Regions from separate parts of the Homo sapiens genome. Here region 2 is linked to region 1. The links come from fine-mapping of genetic effects on gene expression. A gene starts in region 1. The other region holds a variant in brackets. All regions are shown on one strand. Distances are between the middles of the regions.

Region 1 (2,903 bases):
CTGTATATATACATAAGGTACACTGAACAGAAAATACAAAGGAAAATCATACTTTTCTGTTTTCCAGTTTAGTACAATGTGAATATACGACCTTTAAAAAAAGTTTTTAAAATTACTAAATATAGTGAGCAAGCATGCATGACTTATACTTCAGAGACATCTGAAAGGCCCAATCCACAAGGTCCAGCACCTACTATAATTTGAAGTGCAACTCTTACTCTGGTCAATTTTATTCTAGTAAAAGAGCTAATACACAAAAAAAGCAAAACTCCCCTAAGAGATTGTCAAGTGATCTGAAAAAAGAAGAACCCTGCTCAGGGACTATTAATGGTCCACACACCTCTCAGGATACTTTTCTACTTCGGGATATCTTTCAGTTTTTTCCTCTATAATATAAGCATAAATATATTTTAAGGTGTAAAACAGAGAAATCCTTTTGCATCTTTGGAAAAAGTCCTTCCCCTGACTGCTAATTATCTCTGAGGAAAACAGAAGCAATTATAGGTCTAGTGACAGGATCTAAAGGCAAAATGGGAAATCAAATGGACAAAATAAATGAAGTTTACGTGCTTTCACTTAAAATTGGCATTTTAATCAAAACCGATTTAAAAAGTCTAAAAATAAGCCTAACTCCAGAAAGCTGGGAAAGGGGAAGAGAGAAGGAAATATTTACCTGAGGCATCTCCAACTTTAAAATCACTGTCATCTGAACTATCATAATCAAGAGCTTCCAGCAGAGAAGCTGCCAAAGGCTTCACCTGCCTCCTCTTGGAGCTGCGATCCACTGTGAAGAGAAAAAAATTACATTGTCATTCATAATCACACCAAACACAGGGGAGAGTTGTGGTGCTAAGAGAACATAAAGATGACCTCGCACAAGGAATTTTTGTCTAACTGAGTTCTCAGCAAAAGGGGTCAGGAGAAGGTTGGGGTGCAGAAGCAGGGTGGGGAGGGCTGGACAGCTCCACGGGCAGTTTCAAAGGCAGCTCCAGCCCTGATGCTGCCAACGCCAACTCAGACCAGCTAAAATCGAAGCTGACCCTCTTGCTCATCTTTTCGAGATGTTTCTGCACCTTCCTCGTAATCCCCCACTTAGACATCGTAACAGTCAATAAAAACGGCAAAAATCAGGGAATAAAACAAGCGGGCTTCATTCCCGCGGACCATGGAGGGCGAGGGTCCACCAATCCTGCTTTCCCGCAGGACTCTCCCACCCCTGCCCTGCTCCCACCGGCCCTGACTTCTAGAATGGCTGAAATGGACCTCTCGCCGCAGAGGCCTCGGATACACTTACTAAGGAATCCGTGAGGTGGTCGTTTGGAGAAGACTTAGGGAGAGGCTGCAGGAGCCCAGGCAGCGCCGAGGTCGGGGACTGGGGCCGCGAAGACAAGTCCGAAAGATGCTATTTAAAACCGGCGCGCAGCCAGCCGGACAGGGGCGCTCCCAAGAGTAGCCCCGCGGTCCCCTAACCCCCCGCCCCCCCGGCCTCGCCTGGCCCTGGCCGCTCGAGCCCCTTCCCACAGCGCTCCCTGGCCGGAGAAGACCTCCGGCCCAGGCAGCGCAGTCAACCCGGCGGCCCCGGGGAGTTAATTTCTCCCGTTAAAACTAGAAGAAAAAAAATTAAAGAAAGAAAAACTTTATTAGCCTGGACCAGAAGCAACGAAAGACCAGAAATTGCACAGCGCGAGGGCGGCTGCCTCAGACAATAGGGAAAGCAGCGACCCGGATACAGCTCTGAAAAGGAAGTGAAAACACGAGGCTGAGCGCAGCCCTGAGAGCAGCAGGAATTGAGGGCGCATGCGCAGGACTCGCCCCCGCGCACCCTTCCCGAGCAGGAGCCGAACAGAGCCGAGTGAAAGCCCAGGGAGCCGCGCGGAGGCGAGCGGAGCCGAGTAGTGCCAAGGCGGAGCAGAGATCCCCGCCAAACCCTGTGCAATTCCGCCCATAAACCCCAAAGGCTCCGCCCTCTCCGCGCCTAATTCACCTCCTGAGTCCAAATCCCTGGGAGGCCAGTTTTTGTTTCTGATCTGTTTTTTAAGGATTTACTGAGTAAACGTTCCACAAAGGGATGTTTGCTACCTTAAGCCACTACCAATATTTAAATGATATTGTCACCGGTAGAGGATCGTGACTGCAAGTTGTCCAGGTTCTTGGCGTTTTTAACAAAGAATTGGACAAAACGCCCAGCAAAGCAAAGAAAGAATGAAGCAACAAAACAACAAAAGCAGGGACTTATTGAAAATTAAAGCACGCTCTGTACGGAAGCGACCTGAGCAGCGGCTCAAGGGCCCGGATACAGAATCTTGAGTCCAAATACCCTCTAGAAGCTTCCTATTGGCCACCTAATGCTCACCTCATGTAAATGAAGTAACGCGCAATCAGTCTGATTGGTTGCAGAAAGCAGCCAACCAGAGGCTGAAGTGAAGTTACAAAGGTCATGCTCCTGTGCAAACATTGGTGCAAAAAGCAATCAATCAGAGGCTAGGGTGAAGTTACAAAGTGGTATACCTCTATGCAAAGGAAGATTTCCCCTGCAATCAGTTTGATTTCTTGCAGATGGTGAAGTTACAAAGTGATACTTCTATGCAAAGGAAGACTCTCCTGCAATCAGTCTGATTTGCTGCCCACAGCCAATTTCCCATCTGCCCTGCAGAAAAAGTGGGGGTTTGCAAAGGGAGTAGCCTCTGGTCCTTTTGTTACTTAGGCATGGAAAGTTAGGGGTTTCCTTTCAATTTAGTTCTTAGGAAGTCGGAGTGACACATCCTTAGGTTCCCTGCCTCCACACCCTATTCTCCTGCCTCACTCTCACCCAAACTATCATTGCCATGTGACCTCTCAAACTTTTCTATTGTGCTATAGAAACTTCTATTCCAAAATGTATAACCTACTTAGTAAACATTTTT
Region 2 (2,903 bases), 21 kb before region 1:
GCAGTCTGAGTGATCCTTCCAAAACATGAATCAAACCATATTAATCCTCTGCTGAAAAGCCATGTTATGGCTTCCCACATCCATCATAATGATAGGTGACAGCGTGCTGGCAGCCCTCACAGCCCTCGCTCACTCTTGGCACCTCCTCGGCCTTGGCGCCCACTCTGGCCGCACTTGAGGAGCCTTCAGCCTGCAGCTGCACTGTGGGAGCCCCTCTCTGGGCTGGCCGAGGGTGGAGCCAGCTCCCTCAGCTTGCGGGGAGGTGTGGAGGGAGAGGCACGGGTGGGAACCGGGGCTGTGCAAGGCGCTTGCGGGCCAGCGCGAGTTCCGGGTGGGCATGGGCTTGGCGGGCACTGCCAGCCCCGGGCAGTGAGGGGCTTAGCACCTGGGCCAGCAGCTGTGGAGGGTGCACCGGGTCCCCCAGCAGTGCTGGCCCGCCGGCGCTGCTCTCAAATTCTCGCCGGGCCTCAGCTGCCTCCCTGCGGGGCAGGGCTCGGAACCTGCAGCCCACCATGCCTGAGCCTTACCCACCCCGCCATGGGCTCCTGCGTGGCCTGAGCCTCCCTTATGAGTGCTGCCCCCGCTCTGTGGCGCGGTCCCATCGACCACCCAAGGGCTGAGGAATGCGGGCACACGGCATGGGACTGGCGGGCAGCTCCACATGTGGCCCTGGTGCGGGATCCACTGGGTGAAGCCAGCTAGGCTCCCGAGTCTAGTGGGGACTTGGAGAACCTTTATGTCTAGCTAAGGGATTGTAAATACACCAATCAGCACTCTGTGTCTAGCTCAAGGTTTGTAAATACACCAATCAGCACTCTGTGTCTAGCGCAAGGCTTGTAAATGCACCAATCAGCACTCTGTATCTAGCTAATCTGGTGGGGACTTGGAGAACCTTTATGTCTAGCTAAGGGATTGTAAATATACCAATCAGCACTCTGTATCTAGCTAATCTGGTGGGGACTTGGAGAACCTTTATGTCTAGCTAAGGGATTGTAAATACACCAATCAGCACTCTGTGTCTAGCTCAAGGTTTGTAACACACCAATCTGCACCCTGTGTCTAGCTCAAGGTTTGTAAATGCACCAATCAGTGCTCTGTGCGGACTTGGAGAACTTTTGTGTCTATCTCAGGGATTGTAAACACACCAATCAGCACCCTGTCAAAACAGACCAATCAGCTCTCTGTAAAATGGACC[T/A]ATCAGCAGGATGTGGGTGGGGCCAGAGAAGGGGATAAGAGCAAGCTGCCCCAGCCAGCAATGGCAACCCGCTCGGGTCCCCTTCCACACTGTGGAAGCTTTGTTCTTTCGCTCTTTGCAATAAATCTTGCTGCTGCTCACTCTTCGGGTACGCGCTGCCTTTATGAGCTGTAACACTCACCGCGAAGGTCTGCAGCTTCACTCCTGAGCCAGCGAGACCACGAACCCACCAGAAAGAAGAAACTCCGAACACATCCGAACATCAGAAGGAGCAAACTCCGGACACGCCGCCTTTAAAAACTGTTAACACTCACCGCGAGGATCCACAGCTTCATTCTTGAAGTTAGTGAAACCAAGAACCCACCAATTCCGGACACAATAATAAAATCTAAAATCAGTACCGGAATCTGCAAGACCCCAGCTGGATTACTCCCATCTCTACTCCCACCACTAACCAGCTTGCTCACCCAGTTCTAGCCATACAAACTTCTGTGCCATTATACAAACACTCTTAAGCATGCTACCACTTCAAGATCTTTTTTTTTGAGACGGAGTCTCACTCTGTTGCCCAGACTGGAGTGCAGTGGCTCGACCTCAGCTCACTGCAACCTCTGCCTCCTGGGTTCAAGCCATTCTCCTGCCTCAGACTCCTGAGTAACTAGGACTACAGGCACATGCCACCATGCCCAGCTAATTTTTTGTATTTTTAGTAGAGATGGGGTTTCACCATGTTGGACAGGCTGGCCTTGAACTTCTGACCTCAAGTGATTCACTGCCTCGGCCTCCCAAAGTGCTGGGATTACAGGCGTGGGCCATTGTGCTTGGCTGAGATCTTTACATTCACTACTCCCTCCACTTGCAGTGCTCGTTCCCAATATATTTAAGTGACTTGCTCCTTTACTTCCTTCAGGTCACTGCTCAAATATCCTCTTATCAGAGTGGATTTCCCTTAACAACTTTTTTTTTTTTTTTTTTGAGACAGAGTCACCCTCTGTCACCCAGGCCAAAGTGCACTGGCGCAATCTTGGCTCACTGCAGCCTCCACCTCCTAGGTTCCAGCAAATCTCCTGCCTTAGCCTCCAGAGTAGCTGGGATTACAGGCACGTGCCACCATGCCGGATTAATTTTTGTACTTTTAGCAGAGACGTCGTTTCACCATTTTGGCCAGGCTGATATCAAACTCCTGACCTCAGGTGATCCGCTTGCCTTGGCCTCCCAAAGTGCTGGGATTTACAGGCATGAGCCACCGTACCCAGCCCCTTATCAATTTTTACAAATACAAACTTCTGCAACTCACCCAACCACCCTCACACACAGCATTCCTATACTCCTTGTCCTACTTCATTTTTCTTCAGAATCTGGGCCACCAACTAAGAGATATTTATTGGTTTGTTTACTGCCTGTCTGTCCAGACATTAAGTTCCACCAGGTCAACAATGTGTACATTCTATTTCATATGCCTAAAATTTACAGAATACCAAGCACATAGAAGGTACTCAACAAACATTACTAAAAATATAAATGAATAACAGTAACTGGAGATATTCCCACAGTGAGTGTTAGCAGCAAAAAAAGGGCAGCTCCACATGAAGATCAGAGCATTAGCTAGAGAATCACAGATCATGCAAAGTCCCACAAGTCCAGCAGACTCCCAGAATTACTTGGGACAAGGGCTGTAATACCAGAAAAGCAGGTAAGAGAAAGGCCA

Which allele goes with the higher level. Positions count from the first base shown, and alleles are read on the strand shown. Sizes are in standard deviations (SD) of each study's normalised expression.
With allele A in place of T in region 2, the expression in monocytes after R848 of the gene that starts at base 1,747 in region 1 is lower (moderate effect, 0.56 SD a copy in Quach 2016).

The links. PIP is the estimated chance that this variant, and not a neighbour inherited with it, causes the effect. A credible set is the group of variants that fine-mapping cannot tell apart.
Region 2: its variant is the best candidate, but not a certain one, in a credible set for the expression of PHF14 in monocytes after R848 (Quach 2016, PIP 0.68).

What each region holds. Positions count from the first base shown.
Region 1 is chr7:10,972,716-10,975,618 of GRCh38, reverse strand. It overlaps PHF14 (PHD finger protein 14), which reads right to left and starts at 1,747. Exons shown (of 18, transcript NM_001007157.2): 1 at 1,295-1,747; 2 at 674-784. The coding sequence starts at 1,295. RefSeq lists silencers at 903-952, 1,933-1,992, 2,503-2,552 and an enhancer at 1,683-1,977.
Region 2 is chr7:10,993,276-10,996,178 of GRCh38, reverse strand. All of the region lies in intron 4 of PHF14 (PHD finger protein 14), which reads right to left. Among named protein-coding and RNA genes, the nearest start is that of PHF14, 21 kb to the right of the region's middle. The variant T/A (reference allele first, on the strand shown) is at 1,196.